Linked DNA regions of Homo sapiens. Each later gene encodes a partner of the first gene's protein in a complex. Each region holds a gene or a part of one and is shown in the gene's direction. Other genes may lie near its edges. The genes, in order: SYNJ2BP and RPS6KA1.

Region 1 (12,723 bases):
ACTGGATTGATTTCACAATATTTGAAAAATTACTACTCCAGTGAATGGAAAAGTACTAATGAAATCTGTAGATGCAAGGGATATGTAGAAAGGGGTATATTAAATAGGGGAAGTAGTCTGGGAGTGGAGACCAGTTAAAAGACTGTTTCAGGCAGATTAGGTAAGAACTAACTCAGACTTGAGAATCACTTTGAAGGAGTGTTAAAGTGCAGCTAGGATGAGGCCTAAACGTTTGCATTTTTAACAGGTTCCCAGGTGATGCTAAGGCTGCTGGTGGTGGGACCACACTTTGAGAACCACTGGTCTATGTTAGTAAGGATGGTAATAAAAAGAGTGGATTCCACAGATACTTAAGGGTGAAATCTACAGAACTTGGTGGTTAGTCACTGAGCAGCTGGAATCTAAAAATGCTTAGAGGATGTCAGTATTGGAGAGCAAATTCAATTTTGGAGTAGAAATGATATTGTCAAGGGAGAAAGTCGTAATCATGACATGTTTTAGGGGCTGGTTTACCTTGGGTAAAGGATGCGAAAGGGTTCTTTAAGAAAGAATTATCTTTGCATTTCTAAAAGGTCTCTTATTTGGGGTTTTAAAGTAGTCATTAGAATAACGTCTCTTAAATTAGAATACCTTTAGCCTTAACTAGGAGGGTTGAAAGGCATAATTGGCTTAACTGGCCTATGCCCTTTATAACATCTTCTTTTGCCTGATGTACCAATGTCTTTCTTCCCTGTTAGCAGAAGGAGACTCAGATGGAGGGGCAGGATTACACACTGAATCATTGGCAGGTAAAGCTACTATTAGAATCCAGGCCTTGCAGCTTTATGTAGTACTGAGATTATGTCAGTCAGGCTTTGTGTATTTATGGCTTTTTCAGGGTGCACTCTGCAGCCAAACTTCAGGAAAGCATGTGCTATTTATTATGCTCAAGTGTACAAAGTTCTCTTAGGTATTGTAGAGTTATAATGATCAGCTGAGATACATGTTGAAGTTACAATAGAATGCAAAGTGGTGTCAGGCAGAGTTCAATTTGGACTTTAAGAGAGTTACACAGTATTCAAAGTATATAGTTGCATAGTATTCAGAGTTACAGAGTATTCAAAGAAGTAAATCAGTCATATCTAGTGACGTTATCTAGAAAGGCCTTGTCAATGAAGTGGCACCTAACTAAATTGCTTTTTTAATTTTAATGCTACTTCTGTATATACAAATGAATAGTAATATTAATATATAAATACCTTGTTTTTATTCAACTCTAACTTTTTTTTTTTTTTGAGACAGAGTCTTGCTCTGTTGCCCAGGCTGGAGTACAGTGGCACAATCTTGGCTCACTGCAACCTCTGCCTCCTGTGTTCAAGTGATTCTTCTGCCTCAGCCTCCCGAGTAGCTGGGACTACAGGTGTGCGCCACCACGCCCAGCTTATTTTTGTATTTTTAGTAGAGACGGGGTTTCACCATGTTGGTCAGGGTGGTCTCGAACTCCTGACCTCATGATTCGCCCTCCTTGGCCTCCCAAACTGTTGGGATTGCAGGTGTGAGCCACCATGCCTGGCCTCAACTCTTAACACTTTTTAAATGTGTAACATTAAATACAAACTAAATGGCAAAACCAATAAAAATTTAATTTACAACATATATGTGATAGGCAGTAATATGTTGCTGAAATAAAATCCTTGCTTGCCATGTAAATTCATATAGATTAGTGTTTTAAAGTGAAGGCTTTTGGGCCAGCCTGCTTGAGTTTGAATCCTTGGCTTTGCTGCTTTCATTCTGTTTGCTCACAGATAAATTGATAGCCTTTCTACACTTCAGTTTTATCACTTATAAAATAGGGGTTCCTAACTTACAGAACTATTGTGAAGACTAAATGAGTTAATACATGTAAGATGAACAGACAGCTCCAGACATGGTTATGTTCAATAATTCTCTGCAATTATTACTGACTACTATGGCAAAGATTATTTTAAGCCCAGTATTTCTACCATTTAATATAGTGACCCAGTTATCTCATTTGCATTTATATTACTATGAAACCTTGGCTCTGATATTGAGCTGTGACATCATTTGGCATTCATTGACATGACTGCATCATTAACTTACTTGTCTGCCTCTAAAGAAAGTACTTATTTCTTTATAATGAGAAATAGAGCTATCACATGGGCTAGATTACTTAAGTGAGCATTCCCATGACAGTCAGCAATCTCACACCTATTCTGTCAGGAGTTAACTAGAAAATTGAGTCATTGAGAATTCATTGTGATAGTTATAGAAATCCTGAAGTTCTTTTCCTACAGCATATCTAACAAGAAAACCAAGGCATAACATGAAATTAAAGTCCCTCGACTAGAAAACTGTATTCATTTCTACACTGTAGGTAGCAGGACTGATCCTTTTTAAAGATCAATCTTGGAAGATAAATAGAATTTTTTAAAAGGGAAGGGCATTTAGGTGGTAGATACAGTTTGAGCACAGGTATAAAGGTAAAAAATATGTTTTATGTCCCAGTCAGTGAGTTATGTGACTTAGCTAGAGTATAGGATATAGGAAAGGAAATAGAAATTAACCTGAGAAGATAGGTTAGAGTCATTTCCTGGAAGACTTTCCATATCAGCATAAGAAACGAGGTATGTACTCTTTCCTTGCTCCCCAGTTTTGTTTTTGTTTTTTGAGCAGTAAAGTGGTAGTAACAGAATTGTACTTTAGGAAGATTAATCTGGAGACCTAGTATTTGAATCGGTTCCAACCTAGAGAAAAGTAAATCAGAGAGAAGTGATCACAGTAGTTCAACTAAGAGTATTTTAAACCAAGAGTCTTCTAAATTGATTGAAGTTTCTTTTGCCAAGGTTAAGGACATGCCTGGGAGACAGGTATGTTCCTTTCTCCAAAGATGATTTTGAGGGCTTTAATATTTAAAGTAGGCTGAAGAGCAAAGAGGGAAGGTATGGTAATCCACATGTTGCCAGAGGAAAGGAGCAGGCAAGGGAATAGTCAATTACGTATTTTCTTTTGCTTAGTAAGTTGGGACTTTACATAAGATAAGGTGAACATAGAGTAATTACCTGTGGAGATATTTAACCTGTTATCTGTAGCTATCTGCTTGGGAACAAAAGGAAAAGCAGTTTATTGCATGACTCAGCTTGCAGCTTAATTTTTTCTCTTGACATGGTGGATTGGGGTCCCAAGTTTTTGTTTTGTTTTTAGTGTCAACAGCCTAAAATAGGCAATAGGAAAGAAAATACTGTATGAGAGATGTCATAGTGTTAGACTGTGGAGTTTGGCAATCTATTGTATATGAAAGTTGACAGCAGAGAGAGTTTAAAACTATTATTAAAATTTTAGCCTGGGCTGGGGCACAATGTCTCACACCTATAATCCCAGCACTTTCGGAGGCTGAGGCAGGAGAATCACTTGATCCCAGGAGTTCAAGTCTCCAGTCAGCCATGATCACACCACTGTGACAGCCTGAGGGACAGAGCAAGACTCTGTCTCAAAAAAAAAAAAAAAAAAAAAAGTTTGAAGGAATGATAGTGGCAATAAGAAGCAAGGTATGTATTCTGATTTTTGTGGGAAGTAATAAAGAGGTTTTGGATATGTTGAATTAGGGTCTAGCAGAGTATACAGGTGTAGGCATCCAGCAAGAAACTGGCAAATCCAGAAGTACAAGTAGGGATACAAATTTGGGAGTTATCTTACAGATTATGGTTGAAACTGTTAAAGCTCACAGTGGGAGAGAAAGAAAGAAGATAGAGGATTGATACTGAAAAACCTTGACTCACCTTAAGGAGAAAGAAAGGGAAGAGGAAATCCGGAAAGGAATAATTTAAGAACAAAGAATGCTAAGTGTTCATATGCCAAGATAGGAGAAAATTACAAAAGGGAGGAGGTGGTCTGAAGACAAAAACGGCTATAGGATTTGGTGATTGGAAGTTATTGGTGACCTTTAGAAAAACATGTTCTTCCCTTCTACCTCATACATTGTGAGATTACAGGGGAATAGAGAATGAATGCTGAAGAAATAGAGGTAGTGCATGCAAACAGTTCTTAGAACAAATTTAGCAGTCAAAGAAAGAGGAAAGAAGATGGGAGGAGAGTGATAATGCGTTCCAAGAAATAGTTGTATTGTTTTCTTTATAGAGGTGTATAATTTTAGTTGAGAGAAGGAGCAGAGAAAGATAATAGTTAAGTAATCAAGAAGACAGAGTGTCTGTGAGTTTTGTAAGGAGGTTAGAAGAAGTATGATCAAGATCATCAGTGGATGGTTTCACCTTGAAAAGGAAATAGATCTAATTCAGAGACTAGGGGAAAGGAGTAGTGAGAAGATATAAAGAAACTTTGAGGGAGAAGGAAAGAAAATGTAGAAAGCATTTATCAGAAGTCCTCAGTGTTCTCACAAAAGATAAAGGAATCAGCTAGGGAGAGAGGTAGAAATGGGGTTGGAGACGGTGGTGGAAAAAGGTCTGGAACAGCTATCACTGCGTGTTTATTAAGGAGTTCAGCAAATGAGTAGAAGCGGTTTTAAGGATGAGCTGGAGTCAGCTAGTATGGGTCTATGGTGGAGAATGAGAATATACCTTTCTCCCAGAATATTCAACTTAATGATGGCAAGAAAAGGATTGCAGAATATGGCCCAGGACTGGAAAGATGGCAGAAGATCTTGGGGACAAAGGATTCTAATGATTTACCAAGTGCTTTGTTGAAATTACAACAGGAACTCCTAGATGGGCAAGGATGCAAGTAAAGTCTAAAAAGGTTACAAGGAGGAAATTCAGTAGATGAATAGAAAGTATGAAAAGAGTGGAAATTGTTGTCAGGTTTTTAAGAGTTTGAGATATTGGAGCTGAAGCATGTCTAATATTGAAGTCTAAGTTTACGTCAATTGGTGACTGAAGTGGAATGGAGTTGGAAACTATTGGTTTACAAAGGTAGACTGTCTATAGGGCAGAAGTGTTGGTAGATTCATTCACCAACTGTATTGGCAAGAGAGAGAGTAGAGGGAAGATTATGAGTGCCTTGGAGAAGGAAGATTGCGACAAGGAAAATGAGAGAGTTGAGTAAGGGAGTGACTTGAGCATTAGCTGAGCAGAGGATAGTTGGTGAGTCAAGATGGAAGAATAACAGTGCAGAAGGAACAGTGAAATGCAAGGACACTTTGATCTTTCTTTCATTATTTACAAATCCTAGCCCTAGCTCCAGCACAAATCTCACTGAGCTTCAAGTTTCTTTATCTGTGGAAACGAGATAAAAATAATGTCTACCTCATAGGGTTATCATGAGAATTAAAAGAGATAATGTATGTAAAGTACAGAACCTATCAAAAGAAATATATCAGATGTTCTTATTGCTGCTACTGTTAACGATGACATTGACAAGTATAAAAGATATGTAATCTTGCACTAAGTGGGCTGTGCTGTGTCACTGAATACAGCATAGGATAGATAGATTATTACTTGTGGCCGATGTCACTCCTAACTGCAAAAAGTATTAATACAAGTATTCCTTCACATCTCTCACCTCTAAGTGGTAGGAGTGACCTACACTGAAATTTTTTTAAGGATTTATATCATCACAGGAATATGGTTTTTACTAAGTTTTGATTAAAAAATGACTAATTTACTAATTTGGATATAATGGATAGGAGTATCCGTGGAATCACAGGAAGTTGTTCACTATGAAAAGCCCAATAGAATGGGCTAGTATAGATTTATATGACATCAAAATAAATTGGTGGAGAGTTTCATAGAGTTATATTTCTACAGTTGCAGCTGGCAATGCCAGGGCTTAGGAATATAAAGGTTAGGGTGGTAACCTGGAAGACCATGCTATCTTTAAGGAAGCAGGTTAACACTCATGGAAGAAATGCTAATACGGTAACAGATTCCCAAGTGTCAAAACGAGACAGGCATAGAAGCTAAGAGGAAGGAGAGACCACTTTTTATTTTACATAGGTTCTCTTCAGATGGCCTGTGGAACTTCAGTTCTAGGAAAACATAGTTTTGAAAATGAAAAAAGTTCTAAGTTCTGAGCTCTAAGTAACTTTGCCCATACTCCTAGTCCTTGCAATTTGCTCTGAAGGAGTTTGTTATTTAAAGTTTGGCCATTTGAAAATAAATTGTTGACTTCTAATAGCCTTCTTCCTTTCTTACTACTCTTTGGTGTTTTGACAGGTAAATGGCCAAGACCTAAAGAACCTGCTGCACCAGGATGCTGTAGACCTCTTTCGTAATGCAGGCTATGCTGTGTCTCTGAGAGTGCAGCACAGGGTAGGTATCACTTTGAGCCAGAAACCTGGCACCAGGCTTTTGCACTGTACTTCTGAATAAGCCCAATGTGTGTAATCTTCAGTGTTGCTTTTTGTTTTACCCTCACTCCCCTGAAGAGTTTCTCAGGCAAAGGGAGGGGTCCATTGGTACTTCTGCTTATCATTGAAGGACATTCAGGCCAGGCACGGTGGCTCACACCTGTAATCCCAACACTTTGGGAGGCCAAGGTGGGCGGATCACTTCAGGCCAGGAGTTCGAGACCAGCCTGGCCAACATAGCAAAACCTCATCTCTACTAAAAATACAAAAAATTCAGGCACGGTGGTGCACACCTGTAGTCTCAGCTACTTGGGATGCTAAGGTGGGAGGATTGCTTGAGCCCAGGAGGTAGAGGTTGCAGTGAGCCAAGATCATACCACTATACTCCAGCCTGGGCAAGAGAGTGAGACCCTGTCTCAAAAAAAAAAAAAAGAAAAAAAGAGAAAAAAAAGAGAAATTCACAACAGTATGGCTTATAACCAAGGTCCTTGCTTCAAGATAATATGCCTTAAAGATAAAGCTTGACAACCAAATTAAAACAGATGATTAAAGAAAAGCCAGGTGTGGTGACTCACATCTGTACTCTTAGCACTTTGGGAGGCCAAGGTGGTATGATTGCTTGAGCCCGGGAGTTCAAGACCAGCCTGGGCAACATAGAGAGACCTCATCTCTTAAAAAAATAATAATAAAAATAAATAAAAAATTTTAAGAGTGACATGGACCAATGGAAAATAAATAAATTAATTAATTAAAAAGATGGTAAAAAAACGTAGCCAATTTTACTTTTTGGTAGGGAAGGAACCATATGTCTACCGCTGAAAACTTATTTATAAAACCATTGGATAAAACACTACAAAGATGGTGGGTTTTCTGGTACCCACTATATGCTTTTCCCTGTCACTGCCATGAACCCTTCATTTATCAACTTGGTGACCCTCTTAACCAAATCTTTAGTGTTCATAGGAGAACTCCAGGAAAAAGGAAATGGAATTCAGAATTCAGTCAAGGCAGCACCTATCCCTGCATCTGTTTCTTATTTCCAAGTGTTTTATAATTTGGATGATGATGTAAAGGGAAGCCTGGGTAGATATAATTCCTCCTATAGCATTGAGAATTTCTGAGCATATTCACAAAACAGGTTCCATGTGCCTTTAAATTAAATCAATTTGCTACTTCTTAAATAGGTGCACTCTTCCTCACTCAGTGGCTAAGGATTTAGAAGCTTAAGAACATTTAGAGGAGTTCCTAAAAAAGTAGAGAAGGCAGAACGTGAAAGATACCTGAGAAAACAACCAGTTGCAAGCAGAATCTGGGTGTAATGGATTAGAAAACAGGTTAATAAGAGATAATATTGGTCATCAGTTGCTTCTGCCTTGGCTCTTCTCTTTCTAAAGCATGGGAGCATTTGTGCAGTAGATAAAAACAAGTAAATATAGGGACACACTTCAATATGATTACAATTCTTTTGGAAGGTATGTGAGAAGTTATTTCCAGTGTTCACTTTTAAGGAAACATCCATAAATAATTCCTAATAAAAAAGACCCTTATGTTCAGGCAATTGGCCTAGCCCTAAAAACCATGCCTTCTTATTGAGCATGTCCTTTCAGGACAGCTCATCAGCAAATGAATGAAAAACATAGAGGTGGAATAGAGGGTATAATGGTATTTCATGCAGTCTTGCCTTTCAGATTGAAGTGTCAGTTTTATGAGTTGTAATGAGGCAGTTTAACTGAAATACGATGATGCCATAATTATTGCAAGTTAGCCACTAAAAGTTGATATTAAGAAGAGCTACCCTGAAAACCATCACTAAAATGAAGACCATCCAGCCTCAAAAGGAAACACTTAGCCAATAGAAAATTATAAGCACTAGGATATAATTTCTTTTTGCTTTTTTACATCTGTTCCATATAGATTCACCTTCATCTCTCTCTAGTATTAGAAATGAGCAGATGAAGGGCAAAACCCCATCTTTGGAGGGAGTTGGGTGCCTTCTGGGATCTGGAAAGCATTTTTCAAGTAATGGCATTGGACGTATGTTGGTATTGCACCTATGTTGACATTGCCCACATCTGCTCTTACTACATTTTGATGACTGATTATCTAAGTAAACATTTCCAGAAAGATCCCCCTTCTTCCTCACCAAGTAATATCCAAGTTCCCTATAAGATCATAGGTTTTATCTCATGTCTTCATTTTCCTGATACGATACACAAATAGCAAGGTAGAGGCAGTACAGAAACAGAAATTACCTGACTTGCCCTCACGGGTCCCTTTAGGTCAGCAAGGTTAAATGCCTCCCCATTAGACCTATTTTCTTTCCAAAGATCCTGTGACACTGATGCATCAGCTCAGGACAAAGAGAGGACTCCTTCTGCTAGGTATTGCTGGGGGTTACAGTTTTGGGTGGTCTAGAGTCTACAAACCCAGGTGATGTATCAACCTGGGCGTTTCAGTTGCAAACACACATTAGTCACTAGAGTTAACATTTTTCTTTCCCTTCCAGTTACAGGTGCAGAATGGACCTATAGGACATCGAGGTGAAGGGGACCCAAGTGGTATTCCCATATTTATGGTGCTGGTGCCAGTGTTTGCCCTCACCATGGTAGCAGCCTGGGCTTTCATGAGATACCGGCAACAACTTTGAAAAACTTGCTCTCTTTCAATACTCCCAATGAAGATACATTTCACTCACCCTCCACCCCTGCTATTCTGCCATGTCTTTCCCTCTCTCTGCATAGCCAGATTTGAAGTGACTGATACCCACCCCAAACCTTGCTGTTCACAGTCTCCAATTCTTCATATTCTAATGGGAAAGTAAAGGTATTGTTTGAAGGAAAACTGAAGAAAAGACTTGGCTTAGAACAAATGAGGAGTTATATATTTTACTAGGACTTTTGATAGAAATTCAGCTACAACCCAAAGAGAGAAAGATTGAGTCTTCCTGTCACCATAGGCAATACCTTTTTTCTTAGCTGGCATGCCATAAAGGCCAGCTATGTGATATTAGAGGAAGAAAGGATTTTTCTTTTTAATGATCTTCCTTGGGAAATTATTGTGGCCTTTATTTAATTTCTAACTACGTACCTGGGTGCCTATATCGACAAAGAGTGAGAAGAGCATTTTTACTTTTTTAAAAAAGCAAATACATATATACACATACGTATGCAAATATTATAGTATAATAGTGATCCCTATGGAGAATTAAAGGTGAGAAAGCTACTTTGTGGTGTCTAGGTTTCTGATAAAAGGGATGATCTTAACTGAAGAATTTAAAGAGATACTTAAACAGAGCAAATGTAGTAGGAACAAGGGAGTGAGCCTTATAAGAGGACGTTCAGTCTCATTTATTAAAATAATAACTGAGACTGGGAGAGGTGGCTCATGCCTGTAAATCCCAGCACTTTGGTAGCCTGAAGTGGGAGATTGCTTGAGTCCAGGAGACCAGCCTGGGCAACATAGCAAAACCTCATCTCTATTTAAAAAAAAAATAGAAAAAAATGTAATAACTGAAGCAACTAATTAAAAATCTTAGAAGAACAATATTTATTCTTATAACAGCCAACTATGGTGAGTTATTATAAGGTAAATTGCCATAATCCAGCGCTGCTCACATCTAAAAAACTTTGAGGTGTAAAGGTAAATCGTACCAATCTCTGGGCTGCCCTAGTGACTTTTTTGATACCTCAGAGTCCTATTGAAGAACCAGGTGGAATGATTGTGGTAAGGGCTATAGTGCTGGAGCCAAACACCCCAGCAAGAAAACTCTAAAAGGACAAAAGATAAGGTAGTGCCTCCAAGGTGGCACCTGAACCCTCTCAGGCTACTTTTTGGTTTCTACTAACAAACCTGAGGGAAGGAACTGCCTCCCTGGCAGGATGGGCATCAAATCAACTCTGGCTTCAGATTTAGTTAAAATGAGGCCGGGTGCAGCGGCTCACACCTGTCATCTCAGCACTTTGGGAGGCCGAGGCAGGCAGATCACAAGGTCAGGAGTTCAAGACCAGCCTGGCCAACATGGTGAAACCCCATGTCTACTGAAAATACAAAAATTACCTGGACATGGTGGCGCGTTCCTGTAATTCCAGCTACTCAGGAGGCTGAGGCAGGAGAACTGTTTGAACCAGGACCTGGGAGACGGAGGTTGCAGTGAGCCAAGATCACGCCACTGCACTCCAGCCTGGGCTACAGAGCAAGACTCCATCTCAAAAAAAGAAAGGCATGGATTGCTAGTATTTTTGAAAGGCTTTATACACTACATACGGCTTTTAATAAACCTTTTTGCAGCAAGAGGGAGGAAAAGAGTTTTGTTTGCTTTAGGAGGTAGGGAAATGTGGTAGGTGTTTCATGCGGCCTAGGAGGAGGATATGAATGAATGGATACTATGGAATGCCAGTGATCTCGATAAGGTGGGAACCATCCTGTTCATGTTCTTTTAAGGCTGGTTTTAAGCACTATGGGTAGCTGAATTTTCTGGCTTTAAGAAAATCATTTCCATTAGCCAAATATATTGGCCATACTATAGGCCTTTTATAATTTTGTTAGCAAGATTATCAGGACTCAGGCAATCAACTGTATTTCATTTCTAGCTTGGACAGTCTGGTAATTAAATGTTGATTGGACATCAGCTTTGTCAAGACACTTTTACAAAGAAGTACAGTGCATATCCTCCATCCCATAGGGCTTTTGGGTTCCAACTGCGAAGACAACACTCTTATTGGCCACATAGGTAGGACAGTGTAAGTAGGGGTCATGTTTATATTACAGACAGCAAAAGAGAAAAGTTACTGAGAACTGGGGCGTTTGAGAAAGTTACGTGGAGGAAAGGGACAAGTTGAAGACCCTTAAGGGCCTCACAGCCTAGTTAAGAGAATTCATAAACAGGTGAGAAGTTAAAAGTATATCAGCAGGCTAAGTATTGAAAACAATATTAAAGGGGTACCATGCAAAACACGATGCAGCAACAAAGAAGATATGCAGGTAATCATCACATTTTCTTTTAGAAATTCAGGGAAAAAAAGATGTCACATAATGGCATCAGGCTCAATTGGAAAGGGAAGGCTTTTGAAAATAAGAGGTCCGGTAAGACCTTGCCTCTGGGTCACTACTGGTATAGGGAGAAACTTGCTTTAAACAGTCCTGACATAAAGTGCCTTTTGACATCAACTATTCAATACCTTTGAGACTCACTTAGACAACTGGACTCATTGTAGGTTCCACAGAAAAACACGGACAACATTCTAGTTGTCACTCCAACCAGCCACACTAGGAGGGCACAGCCTCTGGTACCCTTTCTGTTCCTGAAGGCATGTACAGCGGCTTCTACAGCAAGCTTGCTTACCTCCCAGGATTCACCTCATGGTTTGGACACTGATTCCTGAGAGAGCCTTGAGACACACAAAGTGAAAAAAATGTCAAGCAGGAATGAAAGCTCTAGTTTTTTGCTTGTTGGTATATGTAAATTTGTTTAAAAAGTATCCATTCTGTCGTTGGTAGAAGTTTTGCTTTGGTTGATAATAGAGATTCTGATGTACTCTTATAACTTAGGTTTTCTCAGAAATTAAGTAGCATTGAAGATCAATGTAATACAGTTTTAAGCAGGTACACTAATTATATTATTGATTCTATAGAAAACTAAAATTATAGATGAGGTATCAGGATCCATTATAGGTTGTAAAAAAATTCATGTTCTTCATAGATTGAGTCTAATATTTCTTCTATAGATTGCATCTAATGTTCCTACTACCTAAATTATTACGTTCAAAGTTTTGAAAATTGAACGAAGGTATTTTTAAGTACTTAAAACATTTCTCTATCATTCTGTATTACATGTATAATTATAAGATATTGTTTGCTTCAACTAGCTGTACTTTGTTTTCCTGTGAAGTTTCAACTTATGTGTTATCGATTTAACTTAATTGTTCCATCTAGCCATGTATAATGGAAAAAGGAAGTTAATATTTGTTATTGTGTTCTATGCCAGGGACTGTACCAAACTCTGATTGGTACATTATTTCATGTCTCATAACTCTGGGATCTAAGTATTGTCACAAAGAGACTAAAAATGAGAGAAAAAATTACTTGACTAGGATTATGTAGGTGGTAATAATAGAATCAGGATTTAAACTCAGGACTTCAGATGCCAGCATCAATGATATTCTCTCACTGGAAGTGGTTCTCAAAGCAAGGTCCTGACAAAAGCATCAGCGTTACTGGGGAACTTGTTAGAAAAGCAAGTTCATAGGCTGGGCATGGTGGCTCATGCCTGTAATCCCAGCACTCTAGGAGGCCTAGGCAGGTGGGTCACTTGAGCTCAGGAGTTTTGAGACCAGCCTGCACAATGTGGTGAAACCCTGTCTTTACTAAAAGTCAAACAAATTAGTGGTGCATTCCTGTAGGCCCAGCTACACGGGAGGATTGCTTGA
Region 2 (9,729 bases), on another chromosome or scaffold:
GGAGTTTGCAGATTGTCTCCCCTCATCTCTTTCCCCACCCCAGGTACAGCAGCAAGAACCCACAGCTCTGCCCTTAACCCCTTCCTGGGGATCCCTGCCCTGCTGCCTGCCCGTGTGTCTGCCAGGTGTCAGACCTATCTGCCCTAGGTATTGTCAGTCTGCTTGGGGCTCGCTGACTCTCCCGCTGTCTCTCTTTGCTGCCTACCTCTGTCTGTGGTTGGGTTCCAATCTCTGTCTCCACTTGATAAGTGCCTGACTTCACCTTTTGGGTACATGTCACATGTTAGGTGCCTGTTGTTCATGTCCCCTTCTGTCTCTGCCTGTTGGGTTTATGTCTTCATCTGTCTCTGCCTGTTGGATACCTGTCCCCTTCTGTCTTTGCCTGTTGGGTTTGTGTCACCATCTGTCTCTGCCTTTTGGATACATGTCCCCTTCTGTCATTGCCTGTTGGTTTTTTTTTTGAAACGGAGTCTCACTTTGTCGCCCAGGCTGGAGTGCGGTGGTGCGATCTTGGCTCACTGCAGCCTCCCCCTCCCAGGTTCAAGCCATTCTCCTGCCTCAGCTTCCCAAGTATCTGGGATTACAGGTGCCCACCACCACGCCCAGCTAATTTTTTGTATTTTTAGTAGAGACGGGGTTTCACCGTGTTAGCCAGGATGGTCTCGATCTCCTAACCTCGTGATCCACCTGCCTCGGCCTCCCAAAGTGCTGGGATTACAGGCGTGAGCCACCACGCCCAGCCTGCCTGTTGGGTTTATGTCCCCTTCTGTCATTGCCTGTTGGGTTGGTATTCTCTTCTGTCTCTGCCTATTGGAGATGTGTTCCTCCTGCCTTTGCCTGTTGGGTACATGTCCCCATCTGTCTTTACCTATTGGGTATATGTCCCCATCTGTCTCTGGCTGTTGGGCTTGTGTCCCTATCTGCCTACACACATTGGGGATGAGTCTCTGTCCACCTCTGTCTGTTAGATATGAGTCCCCTCCTGCTTCCCCTTGTCAGGTACGTGTCTCCATCTGTTTTCTATTGGATATGAATTCCTCCTGCCTCTGCCTGTTGGGTGCGTGTCCTTATCCTCCATCCCTGCCTGTTGGGTATGTGTTCTCTCCTGCCCCTGCCTGTTGGATGCCATTCTTTCTTTTTCTTTTTCTTTTTTTTTGAGATGGAGTCTTGCTCTGCCACCCAGGCTGGAGTGCAGTGGCGCTATCTCGGCTCACTGCAAGCTCCGCCTTCCAGGTTCATGCCATTCTCCTGCCTCAGCTCCCGAATAGCTGGGACTACAGGAGCTGACCACCACGCCTGGCCAATTTTTTTTTTTTTTGTATTTTTAGTAGAGACAGGGTTTCATCATGTTAACCAGGATCGTCTCGATCTCCTGACCTCATGATCCGCCCGCCTCAGCCTCCCAAAGTGCTGGGATTACAGGCATGATGGATGCCATTCTTACCTGTTTCCACCTGTTGGGTGCCTGCTTCTGCCTGTTGGGTGTCTCTCTTCGTCTGCCTCCACATATCAGGCACCTGTCTTTGTCTGTTGGGTACCTGTTTGCTATTGGGTACCTCTCTGCTGTTGGGTACCAGTCTGCTCAGCAGCTGCATTGGCAGGGGACTTTCCCTTTGTAGGCCCACAGGGAGGATGGGGGAACGGCCAGAGGGCAGCCCTCAGGCTCTGAGGAGAGGGGGAGAGAGAGGAAGGGAACGTGGTGAGGGTGTAGGCCTGGTGCTGGGAAACCACAGGCCCTGAGTGATTGGCTGCCCTGGGCCAGGCCCAGCCCCCGCCCTTACCCTGCACATCCGCCTTGGTCCCGGCCACCACTGCGGCAGCCCCGGACTCTGCCTGCTCCTGCCATGGTGCCGTGGCCCTGCTGGGCGGATGGAGCAGGATCCCAAGCCGCCCCGTCTGCGGCTCTGGGCCCTGATCCCCTGGCTTCCCAGGAAGCAGCGGCCCAGGATCAGCCAGACCTCTCTGCCTGTCCCTGGCCCTGGCTCTGGCCCCCAGCGGGACTCGGTGAGTGTGCCCGAATGTCTGGTCCTGACCTGGCTGTGTCCCTTGCAGCAGGTGCCTGGGAAGCCAGCTTAACATAAGCTGGCTTTGGGCTGTCCTGGCCCAGGCCTGGCCCTGCAGGGTGACTGGACCCTGCCCAGACTTGCTTCCTGGGGAAGTGAGGAGGCACTTCAGGGCTTCAAGGCAATGGCAGCAGATTGGAGGGAGGGTAGAGTCCTGGAAAGGCTAGGACCTGGCAAGGGGCTTCCAGTAGGTTTGTATGAGGGAAGTTTGGGAAGTTGAGCCATGCAGTCTTTGGCCTTAACTCTGACCTGCCCCAGGCCAGCACTTACCTAGTTGATGGGGGAGTTTGGGTGACTCTTGGGTCTTTGTGCACGTCAGCCCTGTCCTGCTGACCAGAGGGATCCCCTCATCCCATCCTGACCAGGAACGAAGGCCCAGCTCTACCTCCCCATATGAGAACAAGCCTACTTCCTATTGTGGCAACACTAAAACAACAGGGGGAGGGAAGCCCCACGGGCGGACCTGGGGCAGGTCTCTGGGTCTCAGCCAGAGCCTGGGGTTGACTCAGCCTGGCCATGCCTGGGCATCCCTTTGGGCCTAACCAGGCCAGAGCATCGTGAGCAATAGGAGCGGTGCCTGTTCTGGTTTGACCTCCCCAGACTTTGAGGCTCTTTTGAAATCGATGACCCTGGAGGCTAGCCCTTCAGGGAAGTCGTCTATTGGGCCTTTAGGTTCCATCTGCTGTGGTCTGGTGGGAATGGACTTGGGCAGGGGAGCCTCCTGCTGCCTGGATGGGGCCCACCATGCCCACCAGCTCTGTCCCTCCATCAGGATGAGGGCGTCCTCAAGGAGATCTCCATCACGCACCACGTCAAGGCTGGCTCTGAGAAGGCTGATCCATCCCATTTCGAGCTCCTCAAGGTTCTGGGCCAGGGATCCTTTGGCAAAGTGAGTCATGAGCCCATAGCTGTGAAGGCAACACTCGTCATGTTAGAGGTGGGGGTCAAGGGTCACCTAGGGGCCCAAAGGATCAGAGGTCACCTTGGTACCCAGGGAGAGCAAAAAGGTCAGCTTGGGGCTCAGAGAAGATAGAGGTCAGCCTGGACTCAGACCTCTCCCATCTTCTGCCCTGCTTCCTGCTCTGCCTTCTCAGGTCTTCCTGGTGCGGAAAGTCACCCGGCCTGACAGTGGGCACCTGTATGCTATGAAGGTGCTGAAGAAGGCAACGCTGAAAGGTGAGTGGGGACACCTCCCTGTGCAGAACCCAGGCTTGGCTGAGGGAGGCAGCCCAGACTTCAAGGGCCTTGGGTCTGGCAAGGGAGACAGCTCTGTCTTCAGGAGCACCTAGTTCAAAGGTGGAGAAACAGGCCTATTTCTCAGCTATCCCTCGCCAGCCAATCCTCCTCCCCCTAAGCCAAGTGCTAGTGACTGGCTGTGAAGGTCTGGAAGGTGGTAATAGGGTAAATGCAATGTGTTTGTCAGGGGGCGGGGCCCTCAACTACCAAGCTGGTCAAGCAGAGGCATTCTGACTGTTGATGCTAGAAGAGTCTGGGGGAGACCTCTGTGGCCCCTAACTCAGGGGCCTGAGAGAAGGGCGTGAGTGAAGAGGCAGGGAGCCCAGGGAGGCAGCTGGGCTAGGCAAGAGAGGGTGAGTCCAGGCAGGGCCACAGAGCTGGATGGCAGAGAGGTTCAGAAGGGAGCCCCGAGCCAAGGTTAGAGTTCTGGGGACTTACAAAGGGTGTGAAGATGGTTGGTAGTGGGCTTTGGGTTGGATACTGACCACTTGGCCTGGGAACCAGTGTGACCACTGACCCGGCAGAGTCATAGCCAAGTCTCTCTTTAAATAAGTCAAGGCCGGGCGCGGTGGCTCACACCTGTAATCCCAGCACTTTGGGAGGCTGAGGTGGGCGGGTCATTTGAGGTCAGGAGTTCAAGACCTGACCAACATGTTGAAACCCCGTCTCTACTAAAAATACAAAGAAATGAGCTGGGTGTGGTGGTGTGCACCTCTGATCCCAGTCAGAGCCAAATCCTAGCTGGGGAGGTAGTGGGGGCAGTAGGAGGCGTCAGCCTTAAGGACGTTATGGGTGGCTTTGGTATCCTAAGGCCAGCCTGGTGGGTGTGGAAGTCATCCCCCAGGAGGTATGGTGGCAGCTTCAGAGGGAGGAGAAAGATGAAAAGCCTGGGTCCCTGCTGTGAAGGGCTCACAGGCTGGGCAGGAGAGGCTAAGCATACCCGACAGTGTGGTGCAGCCGGTGCTGTGACTGGTGTGCGTGGATATCCGACGCGCTGGGGAGCTGGGAGTGGTGGTGTAGTCTTGTAGAGGGTGGGCCCAGAGGCCAAGGGGACACCTAAGGAGCGGGAAGCCTTGGAGGATGAGTGGATTTCTCTAGACCAAAAATGTTTGAGGAAGGGGACCCTGGGAAGGAGAAACTGTTTGCCTGAACTAAAGTGTAGAGGTGGTTTGAAAATGTAAGGTAAGCTGGGTGCTGTGGCTCATACCTGTAATCCTAGCACTTTGGAAAGCTGAGGCGAGTGGATCACTTGAGGTCAAGAGTTCGAGACCAGCCTGGCCAACATGGGAAAACCCCATCTCTACTAAAATACAAAAATTATCTGGGTATGCTGGTATGCACACCTATAGTCCCAGCTACTCAGGAGGTTGAGGCACAAGAATTGCTTGAACCCAGGAGGTGGAGATTGCAGTGAGCCGAGATCGCGCCACCATACTCCAGCCTGGGCGATGAGAGCGAAACTCCATCTCAGAAAAAAAAAAAAAGAAAAAAGAAAATGTAAGGTGACCAAAATAGTTAACTCCGGTGTGGTCCTTGTCATGTCTAATGAGGAAAACACAAAAATTAAAACAGAAGAAGGGGACCAGCTCCTGCAGCCCTGTGTGCTGACATAGAAGGTGTGTTGGAAGGCAGCTGCAGCTTCTACTTGTAGCAAGGGCCAAGGATTGTGTCCTGAACAAGACTCCGGAAAGACATGCAGGAGGAGTACATTGGCCAGATCTCCTAAGATAAGCAGCTGTGAGCATCAATTCTGGAATGGCAGTGACGAATGAATAGAATTCATACTAGATGGATGGACTAGTGAAGGCTTTGGGACTATGAGGCTGGAGAGGAAACTGCCAATCCAGTACATGGACCAAAAAAGCCTTTAGTTTTGCATTGTGTGTATTGCTCAGACATTTTGTCTGGTCTTAGTAAGCACTCCCTAGCCTTCCACCTCTCCTTTTAATAAAAGTCAAGGCTGGGTGCGGTGGCTCATGCCTGTAATCCCAGCACTTTGGGAGGCCAAGGTGGGTGGATCATTTGAGGTCAGGAGCTCAAGACCAGCCTGGCCAACATGGTGAAACCCTGTCTCTACTAAAAATACAAAAAAAATGAGCCAGGTTTGGTGTGTCTGTAATCCCAGCTACTCAGGAGGCTGAGGCACTAGAATCGCTTGAACCTGGGAGGCAAAGGTTGCAGTGAGCCAAGATCACACCACTGCACTCCAGCTTGGGTGACAGAGTGAGACCCTGTCCCATTAAAAAAAAGTCAAAGGACACATGAGAGGTCTCAGTCAAGGGGTAATCAATATTGTGATAAACTTAGTTGAAACACACTGCCCAAAATGAACCTAGGCAGCCATGTCCAAAAGCCTGTTCTTTTTTTTTTTTTTTTTTTTTTCTTTCCCGAGATGGAGTCTCACTCTATCGCTCAGACTGGAGGGCAGTGGTGTGATCTCGGCTCACTGCAACCTCCGCTCCGCAGGTTCAGGCAATTCTCCTGCCTCAGCCTCCTGAGTAGCTGGGATTACAGGCACATGCCACCACGCCTGGCTAATTTTTGTATATATATTTTTTTCTTTTTTGAGACGGAGTTTCACTCTCGTTGCCCAGACTGGAGTGCAATGGTGCAATCTCGGCTCATCACAACCTCTGCCTCCCGGGTTCAAGTGATTCTCCTGCCTCGGCCTCACGAGTAACTGGGATTACAGGCCCACGCCACCACGCCTAGCTAATTTTGTATTTTTAGTAGAGACAGGGTTTCTCCATGTTGGTCAGGCTGGTCTCAAACTCCTGACTTCAGGTGATCCGCCTTCCTCAGCCTCCCAAAGTGCTAGTATTACAGGCATGAGCCACCACGCCTGGCCAATTTTTTTTTTTTTTTTTTTTTGAGGCAGAGTCTCACTCTGTCACCAGGCTGGAGTGCAGTGGCGTGATCTCGGCTCACTGCAACCTCCGCCTCCTGGGTTCAAGCGATTCCCCTGCCTCAGCCTCCTGAGTAGCTGGGATTACAGGCACGTGCCACCAGGCTGGCTAATTTTTTGTATTTTTTACTAGAGACAGGGTTTCACCATGTTGGCCAGGATGGTCTCGATCTCCTGACCTCATGATCTGCCTGCCTCGGCCTCCCAAAGTGCTGGGATTAGAGGTGTGAGCCACCACGCCTGGTCCCAATTTTTGTATTTTTAATAGAGACAGGGTTTCACCATGTTGGCCAGGCTAGTCTCGAACTCCTGACCTCAAGTGATCCTCCTGCCTCAGCCTCCCAAAGTGCTGGGATTACAGGCATGAGCCACTGTGCCCGGCCCAAAAGCCTGTTCTAATCAGACTAGTGAAATCAATAAAACATGATACTTGGTGGGCTTCAATAAATTTAGAAGGCAACCTGAAAAAGAGAAAAGTGCTCCAAAGGAGAAGCACAAGCACTGTAGGAATCCAGAAGGCCCTAACCCAGCTTGGCAAATTAAGGAGCGCTTCCTGGAGAAGGTGAGGCCTAAGCTGAGTCAAAGAACCTGCTGAGAATCAGAACTGCCCAATAACTTGTATTATTTAAAAAAATAAATAAATAATATGAAGGGTGCCCACCCAGACCCATAGATCGGGATTTTAGGCCCAGGGATCCAGCTCACCAGGTAGCCGTTCTTACCAGCCCCGAGACCAGAATTTGGGAATTTTTATGCCAGATGGAAAGCAGAGCTGGTGAAGGCATGCCAGGGGGAGGTGCAGAGGCAAAGTCTGAGGATCTGACAAAGCAGAGAACCCTGGGGGAGCAGGTTGCTCAGACTGGCTGATTAACAGGTCTTGATGGGGTCTGGTGGGAAAAGGGACCAGAGAGATGGGCAGGGTGCCAAGGCCCCAGCTGTGGGCACTGCTGTGAGGGGTGGGGACAAGGAGCCAGCCAAGGAGCCAGAAACAGACTGGCAAGGAGGAAACCTGAGGATTGAGTGTCCCCAAAGCCCTGGGTGAGGGGGCTTTGGGAGCTCAGGCCTGGAGGAACAAGTGGAAAAGAGATCCCTTAGCGGGGGCTTGGGAGTGGCTGTGTTGAGTGTCTAGGCTACTGGTGACTTCCTTTCTCGTCTGGCCAGTACGTGACCGCGTCCGGACCAAGATGGAGAGAGACATCCTGGCTGATGTAAATCACCCATTCGTGGTGAAGCTGCACTATGGTAAAGCTTCTGGCCCTGCCTGAGCTCCTACCCCACCCATCCTTCGCCCTTGCCTGTGGTCTGTACACTGTCCCACCGCCTGCCTGGCAGGCCAAGGGAGCCAGGGCCGGAGAAGCAGATCATAAGGCCGCGCCGACTCTACCATTGCCTTTCTCCCTCTTCCCAGCCTTCCAGACCGAGGGCAAGCTCTATCTCATTCTGGACTTCCTGCGTGGTGGGGACCTCTTCACCCGGCTCTCAAAAGAGGTGAGCTGACATCTACTGCCAGAGGGCCCCGGGATGGAGCTGAGGGACGACAAGTCCTCCCATCCCAGGGCCCTGTACAGAATGTGTTTGGTATGGCTTGAACCTGGAACCACCCAGGCCTGCCTAGCAGCCCCTGGCCCAGGAAATACCACGCACCCTGGAATGGAGGCCATACGCTGGCAAGGTCTCTGAGAGTTTCTCCCAAGGAAACTCCAGGGAGCTAAGGGTTCCTCTCACCTCTGCACCTGCCTTCTTCCAGGGCTGCTCTGGGCAGAGGTGTGAAGATAGGGGAGAAGCCCAAAGTCACCCAGAGAGCCAGAGACTTTAGCAGTCATCTTGCGTATGTCATCCAAAAGGATTTTGAACCAATATAAAAGGATTTGAGGCTGGGCGCAGCGGCTCACGCCTGTTATCCCAGCACTTTGGGAGGCCGAGGTGGGCAGATCAGGAGGTCAGGAGATCAAGACCATCCTGCCCAACATGGTGAAACCCCGTCTCTACTAAAAATACAAAAATTAGCTGGGTATGGTGGAGTGTGCCTGTAATCCCAGCTACTCAGGAAGCGGAGGCACAAGAATCGCTTGAACCCAGGAGGCAGAGGTTGCAGTGAGCCAAGATCGCGCCACTGCACTCCAGCTTGGCAACAGAGCGAGACTCTGTCTCAAAAAAAAAAAAAAAAAAAAAAAGGATTTGAGCTAGAAAATGGGACCATTCGTACAATTCAAACTTTAAAGAGAATCTAGCTTTTTTTTTTTTTAATTGTAATTTTTTTTTTTTTTTCAGATGGAGTTTTGCTCTTGTCACCCAGGCTGGAGTGCACTGGTGGGGTCTCAGCTCACTGCAACCTCCGCCTCCCGGGTTCAAGCAATTCTCCTGCCTCAGCCTCCCGAGTAGCTGGGATGACAGGTGCACGCCACCACGCCTGGTTAATTTTTGTATTTTTGGTAGAGACAGGGTTTCTCCATGTTGGCCAGGCTGGTCTCGAACTCCTGACCTCGGGTGATCCGCCTGCCTCAGCCTCCCAAACTGCTGGCTGGGATTATAGGTGTGAGCCACCGTGCCCGGCTTAAATTGTGATTTTAATGTTTGAATAGGTAATATACATGATTCAAAAGAAAAATATTCATGAAGAAGTCTTCCTCCCACCCCAGCCCCCTCTATTCCCATCTATAGGTAAACATTTTTATTGGTTTCTTGTTTAACTTTCCCATGTTTCTTTTGCAAACAAATCCGATATATGTTCATTCCTACCCCCATTTCCTTATGTAAAAAGTACTATTCTGTATACACTGTTCTGTACCTTGCTTTTTTCAAGATAGTATATCTTGGAGCTCACTCCATGTCAGAACACGGAGAAACTCCTTGTTCCAGTTCATGGCTGCAAAGCACTCCATTATGCAGGGGAGAGGGCTGATTCCAGCCTTCTACTCTTGGACCCTAGGCCTGTTTCCCACCCCTTCTATTTCTGAATGGTGCCACAATGAGTGGCTTGCGTATTAGTCATTTCATACTTCAAATCCTTTGTATGATGAGAAGGCTATATGGCCTGGGGTTTCCAAGGGTCCTCCCAGGGTGGCTCTTCAGGACCAGGAAGCTGCTGACTGCCCAGTGCCCCAGCTCTTAAGGAAGAGGAGGTCCCTGCTGAAGGCCCCTCCTGTCTTTTGCAGGTGATGTTCACGGAGGAGGATGTGAAGTTTTACCTGGCTGAGCTGGCTCTGGGCCTGGATCACCTGCACAGCCTGGGTATCATTTACAGAGACCTCAAGCCTGAGAAGTGAGTGAAGCCTCCAGCCCCACCCCAGCCTCCCCAGGGGAGGCCTCTTCTAGGACAGGGCCATCCTGAGGTGGGTGGGCATGGCTTTCTCCAGAAACGTCTCCCTCTCTTGGGCAATCTGAGGGATGGGTGAGTGGGGTGGGTGGTAGTGCCAGCTGCCCAGTCACTAATGCTACCATTACCAAGGGCCAGGTACTTTGCATGCAGGTAATGTTGCCCGTCTTTTTTTGCTAATCTAGTGTGACATTTGAGATGCCACCTTT

Evidence for each region.
Region 2: the proteins of SYNJ2BP (region 1) and RPS6KA1 are in contact, whole or in part, in a crystal structure (PDB 7P74), measured with the Homo sapiens proteins. Residues at the interface, in NP_060843.2 of Homo sapiens: Arg18, Gly22, Leu23, Gly24, Phe25, Asn26, Ile27, Val28, Gln33, Ser45, Arg46, His78 (codon at 6,195), Val82 (codon at 6,207), Phe85 (codon at 6,216), Arg86 (codon at 6,219); in NP_002944.2 of Homo sapiens: Pro731, Ser732, Thr733, Thr734, Leu735.

Annotation. Positions count from the first base shown.
Region 1 is NC_000014.9:70,369,213-70,381,935, reverse strand, and holds part of SYNJ2BP (synaptojanin-2-binding protein), read left to right. Parts: intron 1-6,164; coding exon 6,165-6,260; intron 6,261-8,804; coding exon 8,805-8,945; 3' UTR 8,946-12,723. Other genes in the region: SYNJ2BP-COX16 protein, read left to right, coding at 6,165-6,260, 8,805-8,903. UniProt on the Homo sapiens protein: Regulates endocytosis of activin type 2 receptor kinases through the Ral/RALBP1-dependent pathway and may be involved in suppression of activin-induced signal transduction.
Region 2 is NC_000001.11:26,544,032-26,553,760, forward strand, and holds part of RPS6KA1 (ribosomal protein S6 kinase alpha-1), read left to right. Parts: intron 1-1,810; exon of another isoform or gene 1,811-1,869; coding exon of another isoform or gene 1,870-2,004; intron 2,005-2,835; coding exon 2,836-2,952; intron 2,953-3,157; coding exon 3,158-3,239; intron 3,240-7,365; coding exon 7,366-7,446; intron 7,447-7,612; coding exon 7,613-7,692; intron 7,693-9,359; coding exon 9,360-9,466; intron 9,467-9,729. UniProt on the Homo sapiens protein: Serine/threonine-protein kinase that acts downstream of ERK (MAPK1/ERK2 and MAPK3/ERK1) signaling and mediates mitogenic and stress-induced activation of the transcription factors CREB1, ETV1/ER81 and NR4A1/NUR77, regulates translation through RPS6 and EIF4B phosphorylation, and mediates cellular proliferation, survival, and differentiation by modulating mTOR signaling and repressing pro-apoptotic function of BAD and DAPK1.